Homo sapiens: one gene and its partner. The protein of the gene in region 1 purifies or fractionates together with the protein of each later gene. This does not show direct contact. Each region holds a gene or a part of one and is shown on either strand. Other genes may lie near its edges. The genes, in order: DMC1 and SVIP.

Region 1 (16,501 bases):
TCACTTGAGCCCAGAAGTTTGAGACCAGGGCAACATGGTGAAATCACATCTCTACAAAAAAAATACCAAAAAATTAGCTGGGTGTGGTGGCTTGTGCCTGTAGTGCCAGCTACTCAGGAGGCTGAGGTGGGAGGATCGCTTGAGCCCGGGAGATTGAGGCTGCTGTGAGCCAAGATCTTACTTACCACTGTACTCTAGCCTGGGTGACAGAGGGAGACCCTGACTCAAAAACAAAAAGCAAAACAAAACAAACAAATATTTTTAAGGGGAATTCTACCCAGTGAAATTTGTACGTGATGAGCCTTCATTCTTTAGTTCTCTACTAAAGCATTTCTCAAATTCAAGCTCTTGAAATTTCAAGAATATGTATCAGCAAGCATCACTTTGTAGAAGCCCAACTATACGCGCTGGAATCCTGTGCCTCTATTTGGTTATAAGGTGACTGTCCACGGAGGGGCAGTAAAGTGTAATAGTTTAAAATTCAGGTCTTAACTATAATCCCACTGCCTATTTTTTTATTTCTAAAAATATCATAAAAAGACACAAAATTTTAAAATTGTGTAGAGAAATTGTGGACTTCCTGAAGGATTTGAAAAATTAGGCAAGCTATATTATCCAGTTAATAATTGACACAAAAGCTCTGGTTTGCCATGTTCTATATTGTGGATAGGAAAGTACCATTTTGCCATGCAGGATATATTTTTTTAAATATAAGCATACTTAACAATCTTTCATGGCTTCTGAGTTTTGTAGCATACTTAAAAAGATGTTTCTTATTACAAAGTAATTTTAAATATCCCATATTTTCTTCTAGTACTTTTATTATTTTATTGTTCAGATTTAATTTTTTGATCTGTCTGGAATTTATTTTGGTATAATGTGTAAAGTGTGGTTCCAATTTTATTTTTCTTCCAGATGGTTACCTAGTTGTTCTAACACTATTCACTGAATTCATCATTTCTCCACTGATGTGAAATGCCACCTTCATGATATTCAGAGTTTTTGTATGATACGAAAGACAATTTTTTTGGTTCCGATTTTAGTGGAAAGTCTTCATGTGCACTTTTTAACTGTCCTAGAGTTTGTTGTTGTTTTAAATATCTTAAAAGTTGTCTCTAACCATCGATATGATACCCAGATAAGATTTTTCTCCTCCCTTCATGAATTTGTCATTACCCAGCTCATTTTAGTTTTTTTAAGTGTACTGCACACAACCTTCAAATATTATGAACATTTCTCTCTCCCAGCTGTCACTACACCAAACTACATATGTTATATTTCCCTAAATCATCTTGCTGTGCTCTTTGCAGCTCTTCTGTAGACTGTTGATGTCTTCACCTAACGAGTTGCTCAAAAGTTCCCATAATTATTTAGGTGAGGCCTCAGAGCGAAAGCCTTTCACCACTATCCAGTTCCTCCCCCAAATGGGCATTCATCTCCATATAACAAGGACGACTGTGTTTGGGGGAAAATAACAGATTTGGAAGCACAATGGCAGTTATTTGTTGGCTCTTAAAACAATCCACCTGTTGGGGGGGTGCGTCCTACACAAAATGCCAACTGCTATTGTGGGAATGTTTTGCTATTTATTCCACCAAAATGATTCAGACAGAAAAAACAAAAAGGATCGCCCTGTACTAGGTCTTGAACCCAAAGAACTGTTTGCACAGAGATTCATCCAAGATACATCACAGCCTCCACCTCGGCAGCTGCTCTCTCAAATGTTTCCTGACTCTCCCCAAGTCAGTCTCCGCGTGAGGGGAGGAGGAGGATGCTGCCAGCGATGGCGCTGCTGGCACGAAGGCTGGCCTGCGACTTCTATTTAAAAGCTGAACCAAAATATACTTGGCGTCTGTGGTCTATTTAAAACTTCAAGTTAAGACAGAGAAAAAATTACTCTCCATCCTGAATGGGCCTCGGGTGTCTCAATCACAGACAAGAGTGGCAAATGGTGAGAGTCAGAAAGTGGGAAATTAGGAACGCTGAGGGAGCACGGCCAAACTCTGAAGCCAGCATGAAAACCTGGAGGTGAAAAGAGAAGCCATGGGCAGCGGGGGCGGGGGGAAACGGGCCCGGATTCGACCTTCTAAGCCAAGGCTCCATCTGCAACCCTCGCGACCAAGACCTATCGCCAAAGTCAGCCACCTCTGCTCATCGCCCCTCCCCCGACTCAAGGCTACCTCCTCAGAACCCCGCCTCAGGGTCTTCTCCCGGACTTTAGCGAGGTGCTCAGCTCGAGGGACGCCCCAGCTCAACGGTCTCCCTTCAAGGCCCCGCTCCTCAGCGCGCTCCTTCCACAGCGCCCCTCCCTCCCTCCCTCCGTCATCCCAGCTCGCCACCCGCTGGGGCTCCTCTTCGTTTTCCGCGCCTCAGCCCTCGCCCCGCCCCCTCGCCCTGAGCCCCCTCCAGGCCACGCCCTCTGGTCCCCCCACCTGTGAGCCCGCTCGTTCCCCGCCCTTCGGTCTTCGCCCCGCCCCCATTGCTCCCCGCCCCTCGTCGCCCTCTGTAGGCCTGCTCCCTCCCCGCCCTTCCACCCTCACCCTGCGCCCCGCCCCGGCCCCTTGGTCCTCGCCCCGCCCTCCTCGTTTGGCGCCAAACCCTGTGGTCAACGGCGCGCGGGTCTCCAGGCTCCGTGTTCTAGGCCCGAGTTAGAATCCTGTCAGCTGAGGAGGTCGGGCGGGGCAGAGGGGCTTCACCTTGAAAATCTCGGGGAGACTGTGGGTACGAGGGGGGTAAGTGGCAAAAACGAACAGCGTGCGAAGACTCTGAGGGGACGCTCGTTTTGAGAAGGCGCGCTTCCCTTTCTCGCTCCTTTTTTGGGGTCCCTGGGCTAGTGACTTTGAGCGTTCCGCTCCGACCTTTGGGGAGGAATTTTAGTGATCTTGAGGGATTTCCAACCTCATTTTCAATCGAATCGGACCTGAGTCTAGGAGAGCCCGCCTCATCCTCCTGACCAGGGAATCCGGTGTCAGGAAAATGTCCGGCGGCCGCAGGGGGTCTGCCCAGGCCTCCTGCTGAGGGAGGCGTCGAGGGCGACCCGACCGCGCTGCTGCCCCCACCAGAGGGGACAGCTGGGTCGTCTTAAACCGGGGGATTGGGGAGCCCTACTTTCAATCCAACGGTTCAGTCTATCAACGGCTCCTTGAGAGATGGGGGACAATCTTTTCATTTCATCACGGGGAGAAGAAATGAATGCTGTTTTTCTCTTCGATGGGGACAGTAAATGTGGAATTGGGGTACTCATAGCTAGCCATCTGAAGGACAGTGTCCCCGAAGATCCCATCCGAACGGTCTCGGTTGCCTTCCATCCTTTGCCGTTTGAGGTGCTGGGTGGTAGGACCCTGCTCCTGCCTTAGTATTAATGGTTCGTTCCCTTTGTTCTAGGGTCCAACCCCTGACTTTGGTATCAAATGAGGAAATGGAATCGACCAAGAAAAATGATGATTTGGACCGCATTTTATTGTAATAAATAAACACAATCACGCCTTGTGGATTCCTGAGATTTCTTTTTGAGTCTACAATGTTAAAAACTTTAACTGCTTATCAGCCTTAATATAATATTATGATCCACCAATTTTTTTTTTTTTTTTTGAGACTGAGTCTCGCACTGTCGCCCAGGCTGGAGTGCAGTGGCATGATCTCGGCTCAGTGCAACCTCCGCCTCCCAGGTTCAAGCGATTCTCCTGCCTCAGCCTCCCAAGTAGGTGGGATTACGGGCGCCCACCACCACGCCCGGCTAATTTTTTTGTATTTTTAGTAGAGACGGGGATTGGCCAGGCTGGTCTCGAACTCCTGACCTCGTGATCTGCCTGTCTCGGCCTCCCAAAGTGCTGGGATTACAGGCATGAGCCTCCACACCCGGACCACCATATTTTTAAATCTTAAAAAAATCATGAAACTAGTAAATACTGTGAAAGAAAGTATAGCTAATGTTCTATGAAACAAAAAGGTGGATGTTACAGGAGTACCCATTCATAATCAGCAGGCAGGAAGGCATTCATCATAGATGAGAAAAATAGAATCCATTTATTGAGGACAAAGTTGGAGGTGTCAGGGAGGACACAAGGAAGAATGATATAATGTCAAGGTTCCTAGAGTATTGTTGTTAAACATAAACAAGAAAGGTTAAAAGCAATATGCAATTCTAAATAACATTCAAGGCAGTAATAAAGTCATGATTAGCTGTGCAATGGAAACCAGATGATAAGTGATCACTGTTGGGGAAAGAGAAGAAACTAAATAAGCACCCCCCAATTTGCCCCTCAGGCATCTGTGTGCATGTGGGGACACACACACACATGCACACACACACACACACACACAAGAAATAATGTCACATGTCTCGCAGAAAGAAGATAGGCTGGCCTCATCTTTCCAAGCTAAATGCTTCTCTTACTGTCCTTCTAGTCCTTGTTGACTTTGAAATGAAATCAGAGGCCCCTGGACAAAGGACTACTTCTTACATAATATTTCTTATTTTCCCAGAAGTGATTATTTTTCTGTTGCCCACTTTTCAATATGAAGGAGGATCAAGTTGTGGCGGAAGAACCAGGATTCCAAGATGAAGAGGTATGACTAAAATGTTGAAAGATATATAGACATTCGATCATTCCGCAAAAATCAAGTTCCTTCCCTGTTAGCTACTATTTTTAGAAGCTGAAAGTAGAAATAACACATAGTTATATATTGCAAATATGTAACAACTTGTTTGGCAAGGATGCTAAGATTAGCTACTTAGCAACTGGTATGAAAGTATTTTAATGACTTAACAGCTGGTATGGCCATACTGGTACCTACACACACGGGTACCGAATAGCAGCCTGGTCCTAGAGGAAGGAGTTTAGGATCTGGAGGGGAAGAGGGTTGAGAAAACATATTTAAAATAGTTCAAATGTTGTTCCAGTCCTTTGGGTAAAGGTTTTAAAATTTTAGGGAGGACATGACAAAGGTAACTGGCTTCCCAGCCCTTTCAATGTTGGTGCTTCTTCTGTGTTTGAAAAACGGTATTGATCCTTCCTCAATCTCTAGAGAAGCGGAATTTGAGGCATTTTGGAGTGACTCATAGTATTGAATTACCTCTTTAAAAGATGTGAAATAGCTGGATATGAAGAATCAAAACTTCATTTTTTCTGTTTCATCTCCTTTAGGAATCTTTGTTTCAAGATATTGACCTGTTACAGAAACATGGAATTGTAAGTAGTTTTTCAATGCTGTGTTAAATTGTCTGATTCAGGATTTCTCAGCATCAACCTTATGGACATTTGGGCCTGGATAATTCTTTGTTGCAAGGGGACGTCCTGTGCATTGTAGGGTGTTTGCAACATCCTTGGCCTCTACTCACTCACTGCATGTCAGTAGCACCCCTGCAGCTGTGACAATCAAAATGTCTCCAGACATTGTCAAGTGTATCCAGAGGACAAAATTAAGTTCTATATGTCAGGCGACTGGAATAAATGATGTTGGCAGAAATCCAGCCTTTGAATAATGACCTGGGTGGATTTCAACAGCAATCAGTTGATAGTAAAACTGTGCTGACATTATCTGTTGTAGCCCTAACATTTAATCTCTTTCAGTGGTTTTAGAAAATAGAAGCAAGAGAAAATCCTGGTCCTTTGGTGATGTAGTTATTTGCATTCTCCAGGGGCAGAGGAAAAAAAAAATCTTTACAAATTTAAAAGAACATGTTGGTAATGAAGTTCTGTAGAAGGAAGGAGCTGAACTGAGGGGGTGAATGTGTGATAAATTTGTTAGCTTTTCCACCAACAGGCTTTTCTTTTGAATTCCTTGTTACATTGCCATGGTCTCACTAACATTCTTGGGAAATCAGGGCACAGTCAGAACATTTGGCAGCCTGCTGAGTATGTTCTACTCAGATATTTCCAGAACATTTGGCTACATGGTGGGTGGGTTCCACCTGGCAGCTTGTATAAAATTGGCATCATGGTGGAAGGAGATGGACACAGAAACACATGACATAGTATGGGAGCCTTGCAGGCTGGCATCTTATCAGTCTGCTGTGCCCATTCTTTAATTTACAGAACGTGGCTGACATTAAGAAACTGAAATCAGTAGGAATCTGTACCATCAAAGGTATACAGATGACAACAAGAAGAGCTCTATGCAATGTCAAAGGACTCTCAGAAGCCAAAGTAGACAAGATTAAAGAGGCAGCGAACAAACTAATTGTAAGCAAAATCCATTCTTTGCTGTTTTAGCTTGGCAGGGCCTTGTGAATCTTTATAGGCTTTCTCATGAAAACTAGAAATTATTGTGGGAACTGAGTTCCTGTAGATCACAGTATATTATACTCCCCATGTTAACTTTTTATCACTTCAGTTTCAAAGCAACAGCAATTGATTTCTGAAAGATGAAGGTAGGGATTAAGAGACCTGGAACACTAATGAAGGTAATTATTTTTGCCAAAACTTTTTGTCTCTCTTTATATTACTTTTTCTGGCTGTCTCTGCCTTTCCTTCTCCTTTCCTTTTTTTTTTTTTTTTCTGAGACAGAGTCTTGCTCTGTCGCCAGGCCAGAGTGCAGTGGCGTGATCTCAGCTCACTGCAACCTCCACCTCCGGGGTTCAAGCGAGTCTCCTGCCTCAGCCTCCTGAGTAGCTGGGACTACAGGCACACAGCACCACGCCCAGCTAATTTTGTATTTTTAGTAGAGACGAGGTTTCACCATGTTGGCCAAGATGGTCTCAATTTCCTGACCTCGTGATCTGCCTGCCCTGGCCTCCCAAAGTGCTGGGATTACAGGCATGAGCCACCATGCTCGGCCTTCATTTTTATTTTTTACCTTTCTCCTCCTCAGTTTTGTCTTGTCTCCTCAAATATCATACCTATGGCTGTTGTGAAGCACTGAGTACCAAAGAAGTTGCTCTCTCCTGGTATAGGAGATTGATATATAGCCAATTGATATAGCCAATTGATAAGAGAGCACTGGATTAGAAAAAGACCAACAGTGGTTGGGTCTACATATGTGCAGTTGAGATAGATATGACCAAGCATGTGCTCACTGAAGCAGCTGAGCTAAGCTAACCCATACTGATGCAGGGCAGGTGAGCCCCCAAATTGAGGCTTAACCTGGGAGGGTTCTTGGCTTTGCCCAAAGGTGAGCCAGTGGTGTTGGACAGCAACTTTTGTTGAAGCAGCCCAGTACAGTGCAGCAGAGGTACTGCTCCTTGCAGAGCAGGGCTACCTCATAGGCAGTATGCCCAGAAGTAGCAGCTCAGAGGCAGTTTTGCCATTATAGTTATACCCACTTTTAATTACGTGCAAATTAAGGGGCAGTTTATGCATAAATTTCTAGAAAAAGTGGTAATTTCTGGGTCATTGGGTCATTGCAATGGAAAGGGGCAGTAACTTCCAGGTGTTGCCATAGCAATGGTAAACTGACATGGCACATTGGTGGGCCATGTCTTATGGAAAGTTGCTTCTGCCCTGGACCCTGTTTTAGCTAGTTCTCAATTTGGTCTGGTGTCTGAGCCCCACCTCTGGAGTCAAATCCCCTCTCCTACCTTACTACTTTCTAGCAGGGCCCACTGACTGTGAGGGGCCTTTGCAACTGCCAGGCTGCCAGACAAAAGCCTATATACCTTTGACCCAAGCTTTTATGTAGAGCTTTTGGGAATCACTAGAGGTACCAGCTCTTGAAATAGGAAAGCAAAGAAAGGTAGTCACTAAGTCTTCCTCTTCATTTAATAGCAGGCCTCTCCATTTCTCTATTGGTATGTGAGGGTCTCATTCCCAGTGAGTCTGAGAAGCTCTCTTCACCAACGGCCATTTGGTTTCCTTCTTCAGAGGCAGCCAAGGCAGGAGAGTGATGCAAGTGGCAGTGTGATCCTGAACTTGGAGGGGACTCAACCGAACTGAATCACTCTGAACCCAGCTCAGTTGCTCTAGCTTCTGAGTACACTCAGGCAGTGTACCCACAAGTCAATTCCACAACTGCCAGGGTGTTGAAGAAAGCCCTGGAGCAGTACTCAGGGTTTGGGAAACTGCTCTATGACATTAGAGTTGTTTTCTTTGGAAATTAAATCTTATTACCAAAGAAAAGAACCTCTCTCTTTCTCAAGCACCCACTACTGCACCAAGAATCTTCTCCTTTCTTAGCTTAAACTGTTTATTCTTTTTTATTTGTATTTTTTAAGAGACGGGTATCAGGCCAGGTGCAGTGGCTTACGCCTGTAATCCCAGCACTTTGGGAGGCTGAGGCGGGCGGATCATGAGGTCAGGAGTTCAAGACCAACATAGTGGCCAACATAGTGAAACCCTGTCTCTACTAAAAATACAAAAATTAGCCAGGCATGGTGGCAGGTGCCTGTAGTCCCAGCTACTTGGGAGGCTGAGACAGGAGAATCACTTGAAACTGAGAGGCAGAGGTTGCAGTGAGGCAAGATCACGCCACTACGCTCCAGCCTGGGTGACACAGCGAGACTCTGTCTCAAAAGAAAAAAAAAGAGAGAGAGAGAAGGGTATCTCACTATGTTGCCCAGTCTGGGCTTGAACTCCTGGGTTCAAGTGATCCTCCTGCCTCTGCTTCTGAAGTACATGGGACTACAGGAATATGCCACTGTGCCCAGTTTTATTTATTCATTTATTTTTGAGACAAGGTCTCACTCTATCACCCTGGCTGGAGTACAGTGGCTCAATCACAGTTCACTGTGGCCTTGACCTCCCAGGCTCAAGCGATCCTCCCACCTCAGCCTCCTCAGTAGCTAGGACTACAGGCATATGCTACCATGTCCAGCTAATTTTTAAAAATTTTTGTGGAGGCCGGGCCTGGTGGCTCACGCCTGTAATCCCAGCACTTTGGGAGGCCGAGGCAGGCGGATCATGAGGTCAGGAGATCGAGACCATCCTGGCTAACACAGTGAAACCCTGTCTCTACTAAAAATACAAAAATATTAGCCGGGTGTGGTGGCAGGCGCCTGTAGTCCCAGCTACTCGGGAGGCTGAGTCAGGAGAATGGCGTGAACCCAGGAGGTGGAGCTTGCAGTGAGCTGAGATCGCGCCACTGCACTCCAGCCTGGGCGACAGAGCGAGACTCCATCTCAAAAAAAAAAAAAAATTTGTGGAGATGGGGGAGGGGTGGTCTTACTATATTGGCCAGGCTGGTCTTGAACTGCTGGCATCAAGCAGTCCTCCCGCCTCAGCCTCTCAAAGTGCTGGGATTACAGGTGTGAGCTACTGCACCCAGTTGTTTATTCTTAGAGATAGAGAAAGTGATTGAGAGAGAGAGAGAGACAGAGAGAGAGGAGAGAAAGAAAGGAAGTTAATTTCATAATACGGTGGTTCTAAACACTGATGTGTATCAGAATCACCTGGTGTGGCTAATAAAGAAAACAGAAGCCCAGACTTGGCTCACTCAAGTAGGATAGGACCTGGGCTTGGCTGTCCCCATTCTCCAAGTTCTCCAAAGTTTAAGAACCACAGTCATAGTATAAAACAACAAAGAGGGACACCCATTAGACTACATTGGGGCCCATTTTCACTAGTCCTCCACTGCATCAGCTGTACCTTTTTAATCAGTCAATAAGTAGTATATCTACCATGTGAAAAATGTTGTCTCAAGAATAATGAAAACTGGAATTTCTGTGCCCCTTGAAACTTCTACAGCTGGAAAAAAAATGATGCTGTTGAATGAAAAAAAGTGAATTGTTAGTAAAATACCCTCTGCTTTATGCCATAATTATATCTCATTTGGCTGGGCACGGTGGCTCACGCCTGTAATCCCAGCACTTTGGGAGGCCAAGGCAGGTGGATCACCTGAGGTCAGGAGTTTGAGACCATCCTGGCCAACATTGTGAAATCCCATCTCTACTAAAAATACAAAAAATTAGCCGGGCATGGTGGCAAGTGCCTGTAATCCCAGCTACTTGGGAGGCTGAGGCAGGAGAATCACTTGAATCCAGGAATATGTGTATATATATGTGTATATGTATATATGTGTGTATATATGTATATGTATATGTGTATATATGTATATGTATACACATATATGTATATATGTGTATATAACGTGTGTATATATGTGTACATGTATATGTGTGTATACATATGTGTGTGTGTGTATATATATATAATTTAATTTTCACAGCTACTCCTTGAAGAAACACTGTTGCATGTTTGACCCAAAAGAGGAAGCTGATGTATAGCAAGATTAAGTAGTTTACTCCATATCATAGAACTAATAACTATTAGAGACATGATTTGAACCTAGAAAGGGCAGCTCTAAAGCCTGTGTTCCTAACCATAATCTTGTACTGCCTTCAAGGACAAGTGAACTGTAGCTTATACCAAATGATGATCTTAATAACTGAGTATATCATTTTGGGCAACATTTGAAAATACAACCATGATCTTTAAACTCTTTTTGAACATTTCCTTTTATCTTTCTGTAGGAACCAGGATTCTTGACTGCATTTGAGTATAGTGAAAAGAGGAAAATGGTTTTCCATATCACCACCGGGAGCCAGGAATTTGAGTATGTATCTTACTTTTTTATAATCACTAAGCATAATCTTTGGAATACCATGTTTCTTTTCCTCTTTCTGGTTACTTCTACTATAAGTAGTAGAAGTAGCTTCTTCATTTGAAGTTTGGGTTTGTTTGTTTTTTTTTCTAAATGATAACTGAAACAAATTCTAGACTGCTTGGAGGAGCAAGATTAAATGTCTTACAAGAAATTCAGACCCAAAATCTAGTTTCTGAATCAGCCAATATTAATCTCAAACCACTTTTAAAAATCAGTTTAACTTTTCATTTACTTTCCTTCTCCATATGAAGGATGTTTCATTGCACATTTTGGGTTTACTCAAAAAGCAATTGTTAGATTAAATATTTCAGAAATATTGCAGTTATTTTTGCTCTTCTGCAGGAGAAGTTTTAACATCCCTTTTTATTTACTCTTTTATGATCCCCAAGACATATCATCATCTTCTCAATGCAAGTTTACTAAAATGTGGGTTTTTTCTCCCTACCTTACTAGAAAGAATTAGTGTTTCATGTGTTACAGCAGTGCCCAAGAGCATTTAGAACAAAAGCAGTATTTCCTCTAAGTATTTCTCAAAATGCTGGCCTCACAAGATACATTAAGAAAAAAAGGATTTCATAGTCAAATATACCTCCACTTGAACGTCTAATTGATAGCTCAGACTTCACAGGTCCAAAAATCAAACTTCTGACCTTTGCCCCAAATCTGCTTCTCCCAAAGTCTCCCTCATCTTAGATCTATCTCTTTCCTGATCCTCTGACCTAAAACCTGGGTGTTATCCTTGACATCTTTTTTCTCTCACACACCCTAACTCTAACCCATTAATAAATCCTGTCTGTTCTAATTTCAAAATATATTTAGTCAGAACAAACCTCCCAGTTTCCTCAACAAATAAATTACAAGGAGGAAAAAAGAGATGGAGTCAGGGAGAAGACCTATAGATTAAAGAGATTTAAAAGACATATCACCTGGCCGGGTGCAGTGGGTGACACCTGTAATCCCAGCACCTTGGGAGGCCAAGGCTGGAGGTGGGGAGGGGATCTCTTGAGATCATCCTAACGGCAAACTGAGACCTTGTCTCTACAAAAAAAAAAAAAAATTAATTAGCTGGGTGTGATGGTGCACACCTGTAGTTCTAGCTACTCAGCAGTCTGAGTGAGATAGAAGGATTGCTAGAGCCCAGGAGGTTGAGGTTGAGGCTCTAGTGAGCCGCGATCATGCCACTGCACTCTAGCCTGGGTGACGCAGAGAGAAACCTTGTCTGAAAAAAAAAAATTAAGGAATTACTAAATTTAAGTGTGATAGTGGGAATATGGTTGTTAAAGATGAGAGTCTTCATCTTCATCTTTTAGGGATACATACTGAAATATTTATAATGAAATGATATGTTGCTTAGTATATGCTTAAAATAATATGGGAAGGGAGGTAAATGGTTAGTGGTCTATATGAAAAAAGATTTACCCTGAGTTCATAGTTGACGATTGTTGAAGCTGAGTGATAGACACGATGGTTCATTATTTTTTTTCTACATTTGTTTATGCTTGATATTTTCTATAATAAAAGATTAATATATAATATATGTTATTTTTATGTGTATATGTGTGTGTGTACATAGAGAGTGAGAATATAATTCAACTATTTCTTACCACCTCTACTGTTACCTCACTGGACTAAACTACCACCTATTAATATCTCCCCTGGATTATTATAATAACCTCTAATTAACCTCCCTCCTTGAGACCTTGCCCCTACTGTTTTGTTTTTTTTTTTAATTCACTAAAGAGCCAGAATGGTCACTTTAAAACATAGGTTAGGCTGGAATGCAGTGGCTCATAACACCCTGATGATTCCCCCTCTCACTCAGAAAAGAAGCCAAAGTCCTCTCCCATCTCTAATATTTCACTTTTCTAGTTTTCTATGTACCAGCCATAGTGACCTCTTTGCTATTCCCAGAATATGTCAGATACACTCCTGCATCAGGGCCTTTGCACTTTGTGCTGCCTCTGCCTATCATATTCTTTCCTCTTAGATCTACATGGCTTGCTGTCATCTCTTTCAGGTCTTGGCAAAAATGTCCATGTCTCAATGAGAACTTCTCTGATCACTTTATTTGACAGTATAACCTCCTAACTTTCATACTCTGTCTTCCTTGTCCCCTTTCCTGGCCTTATTTTTATCCATACCATTTAATAACATCTGATGTACTACATATTTTACTTATTTGTGTTTATTTTTTATTTTATTTATTTATTTTTTTTTTCAGACGGAGTCTTGCTCTGTCACCCAGGCTGGAGTGCAGTGGCATGATCTCAGCTCACTGCAACCTCTGCTGCCCAGGTTCAAGCGATTCACCTGCCTCAGCCTCCCGAGTAGCTGGGATTACAGGTGCCCGCCACCACGCCCGGCTAATTTTTGTACTTTTAGTAGAGACAGGGTTTCAGCATCTTGGCCAGGCTGGTCTTGAACTCCTGATCCCATGATCCACCGCTTCAGCCTCCCAAAGTGCTGGGATTACAGGTGTGAGCTACCGGCGCCTGGCCTATTTGTGTTTATTATCTAATCTCTCACTAGATTGTAAACTTCGTGAGAGAAAAAAATTCTGTCTCTTTTGTTCTCTAGTTTATCCCAAGTGCACAAAACAATCCCTGGCATAAACTAGGTGTGCAATAAATATTTGTTGAATGACTAAATGAATGAATAAACAAATAGTGAATAAGTTTGAGAAGTACCATATACTATATATTCTTCTTGAAGAGTCACAGCGCACACTAGCCTGTGAAATCCTGCAGTGACACAAAACACCTGTTTTGGCAGGGCACGGTGGCCCACACCTGTAATCACAGCACTTCGGGAGGCCAAGATGGGTGGATCACCTTAGGTCAGGAGTTCTAGACCAGCCTGGCCAACATGGTGAAACCCTGTCTCTACTAAAAATTACCAAAAAAATGGCTGGGCACGGTGGCTCACACCTTTAATCCCAGCGTTTTGGGAGGCCGAGGCGGGTGGATCACTTGAGATCAGGAGTTCGAGACCAGCCTAACCAACATGGAGAAACCCCGTCTCTACTAAAAATACAAAAAATTAGCCGGGCATGGTGGCATGTGCCTGTGGTCACAGCTACTCGGGAGGCTGAGGCAGGAGAATCGCTTGAACCTGGGAGATGGAGGTTGTGGTGAGCCGAGATCGTGCCACTGCACTCCAGCCTGGGCAATAGAGTGAGACTCAGTCTCAAAAGAAAAAAAGAAAAAGAAAATACCTGTTTAACCCAGCATTGTCCCAGACTTTTAAAATCACATACCCTTTTTTCAAGTAAAGTTAAGGAAGAGGCTTGGAGAAATCCTACCCCTAGGCAAATTGGTCAAAATGAGGTTGATCAACAAAACACTTGATTCAAATGACAATCTGATTTTCTTTAGTTACTCTACCACATGGTGGTCTAAGAACCACTGGGCTAAAGAAATAATTACTGTTATTGTGAGTTTTCTGGTGCCCTTGATGTTTGCTCTTGAGAACAGAAAAGATCATTCAGGAGCTAGGTTTTTTTTTGTTGTTTGTTTGCTTTTGAGACAGAGTCTTGCTGTGTCGCCCAGGCTGGAGTGCAGTGGCATGATCTCGGCTCACTGCAACCTCCGCCTCCTGGGTTCAAGCAATTCTCCTGCCTCAGCCTCCTGAGTAGCTGGGACTACAGGTGTGTGCCACCACACCGGGCTAATTTTTGTATTTTTAGTAGAGACAGAGTTTCACCATGTTGGCCAGGCTGGCCTCGAACTCCTGACCTCAGATGATCCACTTGCCTCGGCCTCCCAAAGTACTGGGATTACAGATGTGAGCCACTGCGCCCAGCCAGGAGCTAGGTTTTTAAAAATTAATATTTAATTAATTAAAATATTATACATTTTTCCTTAAGCTTTAAGTCCCTTTATAAATCTAGCACATTTTAAGGGTGCTTTTATAACAAGATTAAATTCTCTTAAACATTTTAATTATGTTTATACATTTAGTGTATTGTATTTTCTTTAAGAACTTTATTTGTTGGCCAGGTGCACTGGCTCACACCTGTAATCCCAACACTTTGGGAGGCTGAGGCGGGTGGATCACAAGGTCTCTACTAAAGACAGGATCACCCTGTCTCTACTAAAAATACAAAAATTAGCCGGGCATGGTGGCGGGTGCCTGTAATCCCAGCTACTCAGGAGGCTGATGCAGAGAATTGCTTGAATCCAGGAGGCAGAGGTTGCAGTGAGCCAAGATCACGCCACTGCATTCCAGCCTGGGCGACAGAGTGAGACTCCGTCTCAAAAAAAAAAAAAAAAAAAAAAAAGAACTTTGTCTAATTATCTAATTATTAACAGCAAAATCTTCCCAATTACCTAAATATCTTTTGTAACTCAAATAAATTTAGAAGTATAGTGAGTTGTAGGCACCATTAAATGTTCAAATACTATTTATAAAATTAGTTATCAACTTGAAAATTGAAGGAATGTACCATTTAATCAGTCAGAGGCCAATCCATTACAAAAAGGTCAAATTATCTTAAACGTTAAAAGGTCTCAAATAGCAAATATGCACAGGTTATTACCAAATTTATTTATTTATATTCTATTTTATTTTTTGAGACACGGTCTCACTCTGTCACCCAGGCTAAAATGCAGTGGCTCCATCACGGCTCACTGCAGCCTGAGTAGATGGGACTGCAGGCACAGGCCAGCATACCTGGCTAATTTTGGTATTTTCTGTAGAGACTGGGTTTCGCCATGTTATCCAGGCTGGTCTTGAACTCCCAGGCTCGAGCGATCCACCTCCCTCGGCCTCCCAAAGTGCTAAGATTACAGACATGAGCCACCATGCCCATATTGCCAAATTTAATATGAAAATAGTAATCTATGGGTTTGATTTGTGTCTCTATTTTTAAATCTCCCTATATTTAAAAACACTATTTCTACACTTAATTCTAAATTTTCCTGAGTCTCAAAAAGGAAACAATTGTGCTATCCCAAATAATTTGGGGTATCCTCACAGGTAAATTTTGGGGTTACCTTTTCAGCTGATTGAGATTACATATCAACCAGGAATTTTGTCTGGGATTTTCCAGAGGTATAGCTTTCCAGGGTAATTTTTCTCAGGAAGAAGAGGGACAAATAAAGCTTTCTTTAATAGTTGCTAGCCCAACCACCATGGCACACGTTTACCTATGTAACAAACCTGCATATCTGGCACATGTACCCCTGAATTTAAAATAAAAGTTGAAGAAAAAAATAGTTGCTGGGCCTATAAGATTTCCAAGTGTATTCCCTCCAAATGGGTTGATCGCTTAGCCCATGTCCTTTAGATTTAAGTTGTGCAGGTACACTATCTAGATTTTTCTTTTCCTTATTGAAGTCTGCAGCCCTCACTAAATTTGTGGATAACTTCCAACATTGTTTCAATTTACATTTAAATTGCTCTCTTAAACTATGTAAATGTAAATGTATTGGATTATCTATATATCTTAAATTTTTGTCTGACCTGTGATCACATCCCAAAAAATCATGTTAATAGACTACATACAAGGTTTTTAAAGTGCCCCTACCAGGTCTTAGCACAATTAACACAATTAATATGTGTTGCATTTAATGAATGAATGAGATCATGACTTAAATTTAGGCCTTTTCTTATTCAGAGCTTTAAATGCACTACAACATTGGGCTACCAATTAAATGTATGCTGTCAGAATCTGACAGTTACTCTTCTAACTGCTAGCATTACCTACAACATCTTTGACATTTACTATTCTGACATGTCCTCCATAATATTTGGTTTATGTGAGATAACCTGACCATAATGACAATCACTGGATTTTCCTAATACCTGTTTTTCATATGTTTTTCAGTATATTAAAAACTGAAGCCGGGCATGATGGCTCATGTCTATAATCCCAGCACTTTGGAAGGCCAAGGTGGGCAGATCTCTTGAGCCTCAGGAGTTTGAGACCAGCCTGGGCAACATAGCAAGACCCCAGCCATAC
Region 2 (16,738 bases), on another chromosome or scaffold:
GTTTGCACACTATTATTCAATCCTTTTATTTTTAACCTATAATTGTTCATATAGGCATACCTCATTTATTGTGCTTCACTTTATTGTGCCTAGCAGATATTGTTTTTGTTACAAATTGAAGGTCTGTGGGAACCTTGCATCAAGTAAGTCTATCAACACCATTTTCCCAAGAGCATGTGCTCACCTCTTGTCTCTGTGTCACATTCTGATAATTCTCACAATATTTCAAACTTCTTCATTATATTAGTTATGGTGACCTGCAATCAATGATCTTTCATAATACTGTTATAAATGTTTTCAGGTGCCATGAACCATACCCACTTAAGATGATGAATTTAATCAATAAATGTATGTGTTGACTGCCCTACTGACCAGCCATTCCTCAATCTCACTCCCTCTTTTCACAACCTTCCTATTAACTGAGAGAAAACAATATTGAAATTAGACCAATTAATATCCCTACAATGGTTTCTAAGTATTCACATGAAATAAAAAGCTAATGACTCACTTTAAATCAAAAATAAAAAAAATTATTAATCTTAGTGAGGAAGGCATTGTGAAAGATTACAAAGGTCAAAAGCTATGCCTCTTGCACCAAAGAATAAGCCAAGTTGTGAATGCAAAGGTTTTAAAGGAAATTAAAAGTGCTACTTCGGTGAAGACACAAATGATAAGAAAGTGAACCAGTCTTATTGCTGATACAGAAAAGGTTTTAGTGGTCTGGATAGAAGACCAAACAAGCAACAATATTCCTTTACACCAAAGCCTATCCAGAGCAAGGTCCTAACTCATCAATTCTAAGAAAGCTAAGAGAGGTGAGGTAGCTGCAAAAGAAAAGTTAAAAGGTAGTAGAGGATGATTCATGAGGTTTAAGGAAAGGAGCTGCCTTCATAACATAAAATATCATAAAGATAGTGAAAGTAGGCATCCAAACATGTTATAGGTAGAGTCAGAGGACAGTAAACAACCTAAGCAGCCAAAAACGTCACTACATGCACCATCATATGCTTTGATCAGACTCACAATGTGTTTACCCTCCTTATCCAGGGTCATTTGAACCTTATGATAAATCTTATTTGAAGATTTTAATAAATAGTCTCTCTTCTGGCCAATTTATCTCCATAGGTATAACATCCTGAGAAGGGTATAAATCAAATGCAAGGAATGCCTGGTCCTCAGTGTCTAAATTGTTATAAACTTGTTAACAGTAGACAAATCTATTTTTCCTACCATTTTTGTATTGCACCATATACTGACTGGTATTTGGGAGAGAAGAGGAAGTTTTGTCACAGGAGAAGTCAAATAATTCTACAGTGGTTTTTTGTGTTTTTGTTGTTGTTGTTGTTGTTGTTGTTTTTGTCCCTTGGCAGGACTCCCTATGGCCAAGGGCCTTAAGAGACAAAGGACATATAGCCAATTAATTGTTCTAAGCCATATAGGAATGGATGTGGACAGGCACTTGTTACTTCGTAAAATTATTATTTTAAGTAAAAAAGCCAACAACAAAACAAAACAAAACAAAAGTTAAAAGACGGACTTATTTTTAACTTCTATGTGTTGAGCTACTGTGAGCTTGGTTTTTGTTACAGACTTGTAACAGTTAGCCTTATATACCAAACATAAGCATTCTTCTGAAAAATATAGTTACATAGATAGATAGATAGATAGATAGATAGATAGATCGATCGATCTTCACAACTCATGATTGGTAGTATTATACCCAGGAGGCTTTGTTACAAAATATTTTTATCCTGTTAGTAAAGAATTTCCTTTAATTCTATAGTAAGCAGAAAATTTTTATGGTTGGGGTGGATGCAAAAGTGACACATAATAGCTTAGAAGGCAACTAAACTTGTTTTACCTGCTGTTTAGGCATTTTTGTACCCCCTTTCTTGATTTGGAGGGTTTGACCTTAAGCTAATTTTTTCCCTGAAAGCCGGTCCTTACAATCTTATGCACCCACCTCTTCTGCAATAGTCCAGGCAGCTTGTATAGTTTTGGCAGCAGAACATTAGCAGTGAAACAGGTCCAGGCCCAGTGGGATGCCAAACGAGGGAGATTCATACCTCTGGTTTTCAAAATACCATGATTTTGGTTTCCTTGGATGTAAAACAAGGAGAGATAATTAACATTTATAGTTTGACAATTATAGGAGTAATTCATAGATCAGAATAGAAAAAGGAACCTATTACATTAGGGTACCAACTAAAAATATGAAGAAAAATTATAACTTGGTGCTTTCTAGAGGATTCTTGTAGCCAAGAAATAATGATTTAATCTGTACTCAAAAAGTTAGGGCTGAAATCTAGTATTAAGTGTTACGCTTTACCCTTGAAACATTTTTTCTAGCTGCCCTTTTTATTAAACAAAAAGTTATAGCAAGGCCAATTTGCGTGCAAGGTAAGTTTTAGGCTTATTATGCTTGCCTGAATAGCTGCATAAAATGCAGCAAGAATTGATTGGCCATATAGACTCCTTTCGAGTTGGTTTTGCTGAAAGTTTACCTAAAAATAGAATATTTTAGTTTCAGTCTTGGTAAAATAACCAGTGTCTCCAATTGTTTGAAGAAAAAAAAAACTATAATTGAACTTAGGCAGACAACTATATTGTCATAAAATTCAATCTGAATTTTGGAGGACTCAGAAAGGTAAGTTTGCTTACAAAAATGTACTTTATCCAAATAACTTAAAAGATTTTTTTTTTTTTGACCCTTCTTTAACCAGAGCCGCAGCTTTTAAAACAAGTGTTTGTTTACCTGGGAAATGCCATTTACAAACCAAACAGCTAATGAGAACTATTAGGCACTGTAGAATTTAGCAGCTCCTCACAATTAGTCCTAGAAAAGAGGCTCTCTGCTTATTAAGTAGCAAGATTTTGTGTAAGCCATTTTTATTTTATCATAGGACTCTTTTGGGAAACATAATTTCCATTAGCATAGGGGTAGCTTCAGTTAATATCTCATAGCAAGGCAGTAAATGCCCTATCAAGTAGAAATTCTCTAGTTCGGTCATTGTCATTGAAAGGTACTCACAGTTTTTTCCATCAGCCCCGATAAAAGCTCCACATAAAGGGCTATGCAGCAAAGGAAAGCTTTACCCTATATTTTGTGGGCTTTTACTAGTTCCTATTTAGTGTGTTTAAATAACATTTTTAAATAAATAAATTTAATAAATGTTTAAATAACATTTCCTAAAGAGCCGATTTATATGTCTTCAGTTTTTATAGTACTAGAAAAGAGAAAAACAACCCCCAGTTAGATACAGTACCCATTTTCATAAGACTTTTTGGTAAAAGGGGGTTACAACTACCTTACATAAAGCTTGTTTAAACATCTTAAATTTTATAATTCTATTAAACTGTATGTTTTTATGTTCAGGTCTCAGGAACCCTTTTTTACCCCCAGACCATTTTACCTTTTCTGGTGAAAAGGATTTGGTTTCCCAGCAGGGAGTTACATCTATAAGACCTATGAGGGACCGCAGATTTGATAAGTCTACTTAAATAGTCCTGTCATTCTGTCAGAGGAGCACCCACGTAAAGGGGGTCCCCTAACCCCCAAATTTACCATGACCTAGGTAATATGCATATTTGGCAGGAGGATATCCCAGTTATAAAGCTAGTCCAACATGGCTTGCATATGAAACATATTAACTGCTTCATCTGGTGTACTTCACTTGGTATTTTATAGGAAGAGTGGGGCAGTCAACCCTTCTCAGGGCAAAGAGAACTTACAATGGCATTATCTGGCCCACTAGGCAGGAATAAACATGAAACTACTTGATCAATAAATGCAAACAAAATGCTAACATTGTTGATATTATTTTACCAATAGTTTTAAAGCCATCTTATTTATTAAAGATTTTACTTAAGTCATGTGAACCTGAAAAAATATTTGACTAGTCTTTTCTTTTTTAAGTCTCTGATTTAAGCACTTTTACCTATTTTTTTAGCCAATTAATTGGAACTCTTTACATATATATATTTTAGCAGTGAAACACTGCATAACATAAATACATGGACATATCTAGGCATGCCGATAGAGGTACATTTTATAGATTCATAAAGACTTCCTTTTCCTTTTTTTTTTTTTCAATTTTAGATTTTCAAATTCTCGATAACATGTTGCACCACCCTAAGCAGTTTTCAGCTAAATAGACATAAATTTGCATATTAAAGGAAACAACCCAGGTGACAATCAGATAGCAAAATTTACGTAATAAGGTACAAAAAGAAAAAGTTTGGTACGCTAAAGGAAAATTAAAATGAATGTAACTTCCAATTAAACATAAAATTATAGAATTTATGAAGGCCTTCAAATACATACACACATATATACATACATATACGTACACACACAAAGATCCTATAGATTTACTTTAGTACTTTGGCCATGAGATGAATATAAATTTGCCGGTTTGCAAAAAAACGGTTAGATCCAAACAGTGGTTTTTTATCTCAGTATGAAAGTAACACCAGATTTAAAGCAGGCAGAAAATAGAGAAAGAGAACTTAGGAACTCTATAGTTTGCAGGTCGACCTTAGGCACCTTTTTCCTTAAAGTAAAATGTACACAAAGACTATATTACTTCCATTTTCCATAAACTCTGGAAAGTAGAGGTGCCACAAAACCTACGGTGTGCTCAAAAGGGGGTCATTCTCCTTGTTTTTTTTTCCATATTCTTAGTTAATTTCTTTCCTACTTTTTTTTTTTTTTTGAGACGGAGTCTTGCTCTGTCGCCCAGGCTGGAGCACAGTGGCGCGATCTCGGCTCACTGCAAGCTCCGCCTCCCGGGTTCACGCCATTCTCCCGCCTCAGCCTCGCAACTAGCTGGGACTACAGGCACCCGCCATGACGCCCGGCTAATTTTTTGTATTTTTAGTAGAGACGGGGTTTCACCGTGTTAGCCAGGATGGTCTCGATCTCCTGACCTCGTGATCCACAAGCCTCGGCCTCCCAAAGAGCTGGGATTACAGGCGTGAGCCACCGCGCCCGGCCCCTACTTTTTTTTTTTTTTTTTTTTTTAAAGGAGGAACTGATGAGTCGTGGATGAAAATGACAGTTCAGTTCCTCACTCAAATATGCACAAACAAGCCAAATTGAGATTAATTCTGAGAGAAAAGCAATTGAGGAGACCCTTTAGAAATGCATCTTTGAACTCGAATTGGGATCCTAAAGCAACAAATTCCTAGGAGAATAAAACAGCTCAGAATACATCAAGGACTATCAACCAAAACAGGAGGTCCGAGGCTCAGGAGGACTTACCAGTTCCACAGGAGGAGAAGCCCAAACTCGGTGAGGCTTCAGTGGGCTCCAGCTGGTACCTTAGCTCTGGTTTTGGGATACTCCTTCCGGATCCAGAGTCTTCTCTGAGGCCCCACGTGTTTGGGCGCCATATTATTGTCGACAAAAAGAGTGGAACTCTGTAAAATATTTGAAGAGATTTATTCTGAGCCAAATATGAGTGACCATGGCCCGTGACACAGCCCTCAGCAAGTCCTGAGAACCCGAGGTGGTTCAGCGCAGCTTGGTTTTATGCATTTTAGAGAGCATGAGACATCAATCAAATACATTTAAGAAGTACATTGGTTTGGTCCAGAAAGGCAGAACAACTCAAAGCAGGAGCTTCCAGGCTATAGGTAAATTTAAACATTTTTCTGGTTGACAATTGGTTGAGTTTGTCTGAAGACCTGGGATAGATAGAAAGGGAATGTTCAGGTTCAGATAAAGATTGTGGAGACCAAAGTTCTTTTGAAGTCTTATAGTGGCTGCCCTTAGAGGCAACAGGTGCCCAATGTTTCCTATTCAGCTCTTAGTTAATCTCTTTAGGATTGGGAGGGTCTGGAAGAAAAAAATCTAGGTATGTTAATAGAGATTCTTTACAGCTGCACATTTTCCCCCACAAAGAAACGCTTTGGAGGGTCATTTCAAAATATGGCAAAGAAACATGTTTTTGGGTAACATATTTTAATTTTCTTCTTTGTCTTGTAATGTTATGCCAGAGTTAGGTTGGAAAGTAAATCATGATATACGGGGTTAAATAAAATCCATCTGATGAGAATTTATGATTTGTAGGGCATGACTCCCCAGACCCCTTAGATAGGGATTTGGGCAAGATAAAAAAATTAAGAGTTCAGTCCTCATTTCCATACATGTAAAATATAAATAAGTTATTCCATTTTTAGGTAGTCAAGACAAAAAAAACTTCACACAAATAACTGCACACAAATATTCACGGAGCTTTGTTCATAATGGCCTGAAAAGACTCAAAGGAGCCCATACATCCATGAATAGGTAAATTGACATTTTGGGGGTTTTGGGGGGTTGTTGTTATTGTTTGTTTGTTTTGAGATGGGGTCTCACTCCATTGCCCGGGCTGGAGTGCAGTGGTGCAATCATGGTTCACTCCAGCCTCGACTTCCTTGGGCTCATGTGTTTCTCCACCCTCAGCCTCCCCAGTCACTGGGACTACAGGCACACACCACCGTGCTCAGCTATTTTTTGTATTTTTTGTAGAGATGAGGTCTCTCCATTCGACTTCCTTGGGCTCATGTGTTTCTCCACCCTCAGCCTCCCCAGTCACTGAGACTACAGGCACACACCACTGTGCTCAGCTATTTTTTGTTATGTTTTGTAGAGATGGGGTCTCCCCATGTTGCCCAGGCTGGTCTCAACCTCCTGGGCTTGAGTGATCCTACGTCTTCAGCCTCCTGAATAGCTGATACTACAGGCAAGAGCCACTGTGCCCCCTGGTAAATTAACTTTTTAAATGTAGCATACTTATAACAATGTAATATTAAGAAGCAGACACAGTAACACTGATGAATTTCAGAAACTTTATGTAGAAGGAGCAGAGCCAGACAAAAGAAGCACTTACGATATATTTCCATTTCTATGAAATTTTAGAAAGTGTGTAGTTAATTAATAGAGACAGAAAGCAAATCAATATTTGTCGTGGGCTAGAGGTCAATGGGGGATTGTTTGGAAAGTGGCACAAGGAAAACTTTTAGAGTAATGGAAATGTTGTATACCTTCTTATGGTGTTTACAAGAGCACATATAATTGTCAAAAACTCAACTAATATCCAAGACAATTTGCACCTGACAGAGTTAAACAGCAACAAAAGACTTTATTTAAGACCACTGTAATAAGGCACAGAAAGAGGGCTCAATGCCACTGAAAAAAAAAGCAGGAGAGATTTTAAGCACAGAAGTCCCTAAGTGGAAAAGTACTGTATGTTGGTCAATAGGGTTAGACCATCTGTGTTTGCTGATTGGTGCTTAGGGAAGTCAGGCTCCTACTCTCCCACAGAGATTAGGAGATAAAAAAAGGTTCTACCTTTCTTAATTATTGAATTTCAAAGAGATGACACCCAGGTTTTTGAGAAAGATGGTTCTGCATTGTAGAACTGATAAGAGGCCAGAAGATTTACATCTTAAAGGAGCAGAGAAAATGTACACTTTGCAAGTTTTTTTTAAAGTGAATGGTCTAAAAATAGGGAGGTCAGAGGCCAACAATCAGGAAGAACCCTGTCTAAAGGTTAGTCAGGCAGCAGGAAACATTAGGCCATCTTGGTCAGTGACTGTATCTGCACTGTTTTTTTCTATACGTAATACCCATGATAAAGTTTAATTTATAAATTAGGTGCAGTAACAGATTAACAACTAATAATAAAACAATTATAACAATATGCCATTATCACTAATTTTGCACTTTGGGTCATTAATATGTAAAATAAGGGTTATTTGAACACCAGCACTGTAATACCAACAGTTAATGTGACAACTGAGATAGCTACTAAGTGACTAATGGGCGGGGTGGCTTAGACACTGTGGATACGCTGTACAAAGGGATGATTCACATCATTCACATCCTGTGTGTGATGGATTAGGACAGCCTAAGATTTGATCAGATACTTAGAAGGCAAGCAATTTATAATTTACAAATTATTTCTGGAATTTTCCATTTAATATTTTTGGACCTCAGTTGACCATGCAGTTGACAATACATGTGCAAAACATATATTGTATATTTCATTTATGTAAAACTTACAGATTATAGTGATATTAATGTTGAATAAATAAACTGAAACTTTATCAAAACCAGGAATGGAAGGCACTACTGTACACCTAAAGTAGATGTGTTAATTGTATTTTATATCTCAATAATGTTTATTAAAAATAAAAATCAATAAACCATGGAAAGTGTTGGGGAAATAATTATGTCATGGAAAGTGTTTTGATAATAATTAAAAACAAAATCTGCCAATGCAGGAAACTCTCCACAAATGCAGAAAAGAAACAGTTTTATCATTGAATAAGCATTAAATCGATTGTGATTTCTATCAGAAGCAATCTACTAAAGAGTTTGCAATGAAAACATTCTTCACCATTTTTATATAGCCTGTCAGATACAGTCCACTACACACATGTTAATTGTTTTTATCTAAAAGAAATCTAAAGGAAAGAATAACACTTGTATCTCTTGACAAGCAGAAAGCTCCATCTTGAAGCCAAGTGCCTAGACAGTAAACTACCATGAAGACGGGGAGACAGGTGCCACTCTGGGATGTTTTCATTTCTAAGAGAAAGCCAATAGGCCTCCAAAGATATTCTGAGGATACAAAACTGGCAAGAGGCTTATTTAGGTTCTTTCTTTCTGATGCAAAACTGGCAAGAGGCTTATTTAGCCTCCCCTGCCCTCCCCTCCCCTCCCCTCCCCTCCTCTCTTTCTTTTCTTTCGACGCAATCTCTCTCTGTTGTGCAGGCTGGAGTGCAGTGGCGCGAGCTCGGCTCACTGCAACCTCCGCCTCCCGGGTTCAAACGATTCTCCCTGCTCAGCCTCCGGAGTAGCTGGGATTACAGGCGCCCACCACCATGCCTGGCGAAGTTTTGTATTTTTAATAGAGAAAGGGTTTCCCCACGTTGGTCAGGCTGGTCTTAAACTCCTGACCTCAGGTGATCCACCCACCTTGGCCTCCAAAAGTACAGGAGTAAGCCACCATGCCTGGCCTTTTTTTTTTTTTCATACATTTCAGTGAGACAGAGATAGCGCTTACAATTTCACGTTTTCTAAACACAATGCTAAAGAGGAGGTGGGTAGTTATCTTTCTCTTTTTGCAACAGAGAACCTTCACTTTTTCTTTATATATTTTTATTTACCCTTAGAAACGGCCCATGCAATCGAATAATAGTATTAAAAAAGCATCATCCCCTATTATTTAAGGAATAAACTACTGTTTCATTCAATAACATGGAAGAATTTAGAAAATATTATGGCTTTTGCAAAACATATTGTATATTTCATTTATGTAAAACTTAAAGACTATAGTGATATTAACATTTATGCAAAACTTAAAGACTAAAGTGATATTAAACAAATTAATAGTTTCCTGGATCTAGGTATAGGATAAAGTATTGAATGGGATTGGGTACAATAGAAGGTTTTTGGGTGATGGAAAACTTACATATCTTGAATGTGGTGATCACATGTTTGTTAAAACTCAGTGAACTCTACAATCAAAATAAGTGCATAATATTATATGTAAATTATACATCTATAAAAAATTAACCAGCAAGTATATCAAAAAGCCGACAATGGTTTCTGAGACGCTGTCACTATACATCCTACCTTTTTGTAATGTTTGAAAATTTTTACATAAGCAGAAATAACTAATAGAATGCAAAAATAAAATAAAATAAAATAAAAGCATTTGTGTGGAGACGAGATCAGTAACTTTAGTATCACCTGTGGGTTTACTGGAAATGAATCTCAGGTCCCACCTTATACTTACTAAATCAGCAAGTAAATTTTAACTAGTTGCCCAGCTGATTCTCATACTTATTAAAATTTGAGGAGAATCATTAAAACATTTCTCAGTAGATGAAACTTTATTATTTCTCTCGGAAGGATAAATGACTTCTAAATACCAGAAACTAGTGGAAATGTCAACTAATGCCACATTTATGACGCTAGATTCATCGTCATAATAATGGATTTTATATTCTGCCCTCTGTTCTGGAATAGCACTGTCACTAAGAAGGGAGAAAAGGGTGCTGATGTTTACTTGGAATTTTGGCTTTAATTTCTAGGACACCAGAGTCCCATCTCATAAAAAAAGGTAGCATGAACTACCCAGAGCTGTACCACTCATTCATTTATAAATGGTAAGGCAAGGTTAGCAGGAAGAGCTTTGGAACCGTAGCGAAGCTTTTCCATCCCTTCCCTGCATTGCTACCCACAGCAGGTGTTTCCTGGAACCTAGGCTTTGGCCACAAGCCCAGCGGTCGCGGGGCGGGGGTAGGCGGAGCTGTGGGTGAGGAAGGGGCAATGCCTTAAGGGGGCGCAGCTGAGCTGTGGGACTGGTTGGTGTCGCGAGAAGAGGGGGGCGTTGCCGCAGAGAGGCGAGGCGGGGCAGAGCTGCGGGGTGGGGGCGGGGCGTTGCCGCTGGGGCGGAGCCGAGCCAGTGGAGGGCGGTGGGGGCGGGGCAAGCGCGGAGGACCAGGGACCGGCTCCGGACCGCGCAGTTAGCGCCGCCTGGCCTGGGCCGGACCCGGTCAGGGTTCTCAAGCTGTCGTCCCTATGGGGCTGTGTTTTCCTTGTCCCGGGGAGTCCGCGCCTCCCACGCCGGACCTGGTGAGTAGAGCAGGTCCCTGCGTCCGCCGGGCCGCGCCTTGAGCACCTGTCCTCGGGTTGCGGGGCGGGCCGAGCCATTGTACCTGGTGGCGCAGGTCGAGAGCCCGCTGGGGGACCCTGCTAGCGAGGACGGGTGGACGCGTCAGGAGGGTCGTTGGGTCCTGTCAGAGCGACCTAGGCCGTCGCCTCCGTGTAGATCTCCACTTTTGTAACAAAAAGTTGTCGAAAGGCGGCTGTGGCGTCTTTCTACCTTCCACTGACTTTAGCTGCGCCGGATCTTCATAGGGCGCCGGCGCACGCAGAGGGCGTTACGCGTGGGACATTCCGGGGGATGTGGTAGATGGAATTCGGCGCGAAAAGACATTGCTTTCTCCGGGAGCTCTTTAGTCGTCTAGGAGATGTGCGTTTTCAACTGTGTCTACCATCTTTTAAAAGAAGGTGCTCGGAAAGTCGCTTATACGCCTGAGCTTTATCGGATATGTTTTTTTAATGATTTCTTTTTAGTATTTATCTCATTCTTTTACGTTCTCCCTTTAAAAGAATATGTAGTACAGAGTGTCCAATTTATAATGTCGTATTTAATAAAAATACTGGACACCCAGTTACATTCGAATTTCAGATATACAAGGAATACGTTTATAATATCGTTTTGTGCCATGCAATATTAGGGATCTAGTTCTACAAAAACATTACTCATTGCTTATCTGAAATTCAAATGTAGCTAGTGGGTGTGTGGTACAATACATGTACACTTTTTGTAGCTTTCTGTTAACAGTATCTTTACATTAGTACTCCTTACAGGGAGTTAACATAAACCTGTTTCTCTTCTCTAGCTAAAAATTAGTTGAAGAAAATGAAGTATTTTTGGGAAGTACATTAACTCTTCAGCTACTATAGATACTAAAAATTTAGTACTTATAAATTTGATGTGGGAAAGTTCAGCTTCTCTTTGTTGCTGCTGTTGTTTTAAATTAAGTTGATTTTGTTGTTCTGGCTGTCGATAAAATATAACATGTCAGATTTGTTAAGCCCTCCCCCCCATCCTCATACTATACCCTCTTCCCTTGATAACCACACGGCTCACTGCTTGGATGTCACTTTACCAGTGAAGCTTTTGCTGACCACGTTAAACAAAATATATTCCCCACAATACCACCCACCCATTCTCCCATTACTTATCTGCCATGCCATCTGACAGACGTTTACTTACTTCATTATATTTGTCTGTGCGCCCGCAATTGGAATTTGTTTCATTTGGGAGGAGACATTTATCTATGTTTTTACACTGTTGTATCCCAGCACCTAGAAAAAGGGCTTTATAATAAGTAGTACATGGTCTAGAAAAATAGCATTCACTGTTTTCTGATATGGAACAATACCTCTCATGAAATTACTCCAGTCCTTCCCTCCTACACACTGAGATTAGCCCACTTCATTTATTAACCTTTCCTAAAAACACCAGGTTACTTCAGACTCCATTTTAACCGGCAGTAACAAACCATGTATTTTCCTTTTTGTATTTGTAAACATTATTTGTTTTGTTATTGCCCTGACTAGCTTGTAGGCCTTTTTATTAAAAAAGAGAGTAAATAAATGATTATATAGGTAAACCTTGTATCTGTTTTAGCATGTGCTGATTTGAAGGCATATTGATTAGGAGAATGAAATTCAAAAAGTTGAGTAGTGGCATTCTTTGTGGGACATTTAGGGCCAGTACCGAATATTTTTGTAAATTGTTATAGTGCCTATGAAATAAATGTGAATAATTTATTAATAATAATGTTTGTTATTTTAATACATATTTTTACACATTTATTTAGGAAGAGAAAAGAGCAAAGCTTGCAGAGGCTGCAGAGAGAAGACAAAAAGAGGTAAGATTAAAGATCAAGTTTTGCCTACTTAGATAATTGAGTTTGGACTTTATTCTTCATAGATGTCCATAGCTAGATTTTCTAACGCAAATGGCCTTTGATATCCCAAAAATTTACATTTAAATGTAATTATTTTCAAAATGATTTCCTTATTTATATGAATTGCATTAATATATTTATATTAATATATGAAAACTATCATATCTTCTCTAAATTCAGATACTCTTTTAGTAACATCCTTCCTTTTAAAATGGCTGTGCATTGTAAAATACTTACAGATGTGAAGCAAGTTTAGGGGAAAATTTGTATAGTTACAAAATACCCAGTGAAGAAATGATGTTTTATGTAAGGCTGTTGTAGAAACACTCCTTCTATGTTACCAAAAATAAACCAACTCCCTACCCCCAAAGAAAAACCTAGAAAGCAAAGATAGACAAAAAAATGTTTTGCACACTGGACAGATTTTTGTTGTCTTTCTGTTTTTCTTATCAAATTTCTTCAAGGCTGCATCTCGGGGAATTTTAGATGTTCAATCTGTGCAAGAAAAGAGAAAGAAAAAGGAAAAAATAGAAAAACAAATTGCTACATCCGGGCCCCCACCAGAAGGTGGACTTAGGGTAAGTATTAAAATTTTCTTAGTGATTAACTTAACTGGCATTTTAAAAAAACTTAAGTAGCAATCCATTCATAATTTTCTCCTGAAATGTATTATCAGAAAATTTTGAAATAGTTTAAAAGCATGAGTAGTAAATATTGGAAGTAATACCAATTTATTTTAACATTTATTGGAATCAATTAGCTTTTTTCCCCAAAATGAAATAATAGATTTATTATTTTAACACTATATATATTTTAATACTCTTATGCTTACTACTAATCTTAAATAATTCAAAAATTCAAGCAATATGGAGAAGTATAAAGAAGTGTAAAAGTCATCCAAACTAAGTACCATTTTGACAGACATAATTTCTAACCTTCATTTATATATCTTATTAAATTGGATTACGCTATAAGTTCTGTTTTATGGCCTGAGCTCTTTTACGCATTGATTTGGAATCTTTGATCTTTCCATTGCCCCTGTTTATTATAGTTATGTAAATGTTAATTTGGATTACAGAATGTATACAGGTGTGGGTATCATACACATACCTCCCTAGATATGGATCCCAGAGCTAGACACTGGGAATATAATGGTGGACAAGTTAAGCAGAGTCTCTGAATGCTGGAGTCTTTACACTCTAGCAGGACTTTAAAGGATTTATTTTTAAAATCCCTTAAAGCTCAGGAAAATAATGGCTCAGATATTAAGAATTTATTCTTGGTCCATTTTTAAAGTAAATAGTAGTATATTTGTGAAAAGGACAATGTCTTTAATTTCAGTCATTTATATTTAACTTGTCAATGATTTATGAGTACCTTTCAACAGATTTATTGGTTTTTTTTCTCTCAAAACTACACACACACACACATGCACATACATATACATGGACATATACACATACACTTGCCTACATGTAGATACTCTCGTAACTTGTGGGGCAGGCAGTTTATGAACACCCTGAGCAGTTGATTCTGGCTCAAGAATATCACAGAAATAAGAATGTGTGTCTGTGTATTTTACTATTGTACGTTACTTCATCTTATATCATTTAACGAATGAAAATTTATGAAGTTTTTTTATGGTGAACTTTTAGCAATATATAATTAGTTTCAATATAAGGTAAATAAGTCTGACCATTTTGCTTATGTTTTTTATAATTCCATAATAGAACAGAATAGGTCTAGTGTAAAGTAAAACAGTTGGGTGATAACGAGGTCAATTCTTTATCATATCTCAATATTCTGTTGAGATAAAGTGCTGTTTCACTAGGTTTACTTCATATAGGGTTGTCAAAAACAAACACAAAATTACAAAAGTTAAATTGTAGGACTGGAAATAATGAGATCCACTATTTCACAGTAGAAGTGGTGAAGGTATTAAGTTAAAGTCATACGTAATGTTATAGGAAAAGGATAATTTAATCAACACTTAATCATAATTAAGAAGACACTTCACAAGTTCTAACCTAATGAAATTAACATCAGCTTTTAAAGTATAATAAAGAAAGAGGCTTTCTTAAACTTGAAGCTTCCACACTCTGAAGTCTATAGATTAAAAAAAAAATTTAGGCCTTATATTACTTACAATCCATTCAAAAGTGCTCAAAATGTAAAACATACCCAAAGTTAAATTTAGTTTCTGTTTTTCTTTGTGTACTGTTCTTGTAAGAAATCTCTCAAACTCACTTAGTAAAAATGACCTTCAGGACCTTGAAACTATATAGTGGCAGGAGGATTTTCTCCAGTGGCTCACTGTCATTAGCCACTGCTGTTGTCCACTGTGAGTAATTTTTCCTTGGAATATTCCTCATCACCTACCACTACCACACTAGCTTCAAGTGGCATGCTCCATTCTGCTTGACACATGCACAACATGTCAAGAGCATGAAGTGAAAAAATTCTGGAAGGCTCAGGGATAACAGAAGGGAAAAATACAAGGCAGAAGTACTTAACCCTCAAAACGCTTGGCCTATGGTCCTTTAATGGCTGCTGTCTGGCTTGTTTCATGGGCTGGCCTGAAGTATTGGTAGAGTCTTCCTAAGGTAGGAAGGTTAGGAAGACTCTTCCCTAGGTAGAGTCTTTCTGACCTGACTCTACCTAGAGTATGAGTCTAGTTTGCATTCCCTGTCTTCATGCCTTTCACCTATTCATCTCCTGACCAGTGCTGCATCTTTCCAGGGTAATTAGCATGGGTAATGCTGTCTTCTGACTTCTTACCTGAAGAAGTCAATGTGATGATGGCATCAGGATGCAAAGTACTATCAGTACAGGATATAGCAGCACGGGAGTAAGGGTAGACCTCTAGTACAATGGCTTTCCACCTTAGCTGCATGTTGGAGTTTCATAGGCAGCTTTCAAAAAGGATTGTTCATTGGGCTCCACCTCACACCAGTCAGTCTCTGAGAGTAGGGTTTAGCCATCAGGACTGTTTTAAGCTTCCCAAGGTAATCTAATGTGAACCCAGATTGAGAATCACTATCCTAGCGTTTATAACACTTGTCCTAAGAGAGATGTTTTGGAAGATAGAGTCCCATGGGAATAAATGTTTAAAAATGCTAAATTGTATATTGTAGACTATATCCCCTTCTTAGAGACTAAAAAAGGCACAGAATTATGGCCTCTAAGAAATTGTACAATGAAGAAAAGCAAGTTTACTTGGATTAATCTTTAATGTTGAAAATTTATTTAAACATAGATTTTATATATATATGTGTGTATATATATACGTATATATATACATATATATATACGTATATATATGTGTATATATATATATATGTGTGTGTGTATATATATATATAAAACACCCAATAATATTCCTTGGATGTACTTGGAAAACACTATCAAGAGATTGCCAAATATCTCTGGTTCTATCCTAATGGCTCTTCAGGACCTATCACAGATTTAATAGACTTCATTAAACAAAGGGGCAAATGGAATATTTTCTTAACTCAAGAAGGAAAAGACCTTGCCAAACCATTTTTTAATGGTTTCTGCCATTTCTTGACTCCCTGGCTCAAACAAGAATTTTTAAATTTTTGTTTTGTTGTGTTTTATTTTGTGTTCCTTTACTGATTATTGGATATTTAGGCTCTTGCTACTGAATAGCAGGTTCACTGTGCAGTGGTTACCAACTTCAGAGTCCAGTGGACAGAATACTCATGCATGTAACATTTGCATGAAGAGGCTGAGCACAGTCACTCACACGTGTAATCTCAGCTGTGAGAGGAAGGCTTTGGGAGGCTGAGAAGATGGGATGATCACTTGAGGTCAGGAGTTAAGAGACCAGCCTGGGCAACATAGCGAGACCCTGTCTCTACAAAAATAAAAAATAAATTAGGTGTGGTGGCATGTGCCTGTGGTCCTAGCTTTTCGGGAGGCTGAGGTGGGAGAATGACTTGAGCCTGCGAGGTTAAGGCTGCAGTGAGCCATTCCCACCTCACCCCAGCCTGGGCGATAGAGTGAGACCCTGTCTCAAGAAAATCCCAAAACAAAACCAAAAACATTTAACGTGGAGTGAGTTTATTACTTACAGATTGGCAACAAGGGACAACAGAAGCCTAGGATTCATTATAAGCTTGTCTCCCAAGGAAAACTGCCTGGGGTTGATGACATCTGTGTGTGCCCCACTTGA

The links.
Region 2: the proteins of DMC1 (region 1) and SVIP purify together in Homo sapiens (affinity purification with mass spectrometry; 2 studies listed by BioGRID and IntAct, with this or other methods). This does not show direct contact.

The regions. Positions count from the first base shown.
Region 1 is NC_000022.11:38,556,274-38,572,774, reverse strand, and holds the start of DMC1 (meiotic recombination protein DMC1/LIM15 homolog), read left to right. Parts: upstream 1-2,591; 5' UTR 2,592-2,732; intron 2,733-3,384; exon of another isoform or gene 3,385-3,700; intron 3,701-4,365; exon of another isoform or gene 4,366-4,485; 5' UTR 4,486-4,518; coding exon 4,519-4,569; intron 4,570-5,147; coding exon 5,148-5,192; intron 5,193-6,038; coding exon 6,039-6,185; intron 6,186-10,405; coding exon 10,406-10,488; intron 10,489-16,501. UniProt on the Homo sapiens protein: Participates in meiotic recombination, specifically in homologous strand assimilation, which is required for the resolution of meiotic double-strand breaks.
Region 2 is NC_000011.10:22,823,590-22,840,327, reverse strand, and holds the start of SVIP (small VCP/p97-interacting protein), read left to right. Parts: upstream 1-10,526; 5' UTR 10,527-10,579; coding exon 10,580-10,633; intron 10,634-10,716; exon of another isoform or gene 10,717-10,973; coding exon of another isoform or gene 10,974-11,033; exon of another isoform or gene 11,034-11,071; intron 11,072-12,453; coding exon 12,454-12,504; intron 12,505-13,007; coding exon 13,008-13,121; intron 13,122-16,738. UniProt on the Homo sapiens protein: Negative regulator of the ER-associated degradation pathway (ERAD) of misfolded proteins. It competes with AMFR/gp78 for binding VCP/p97, and inhibits AMFR/gp78-VCP/p97 complex formation that is required for degradation of ERAD substrates.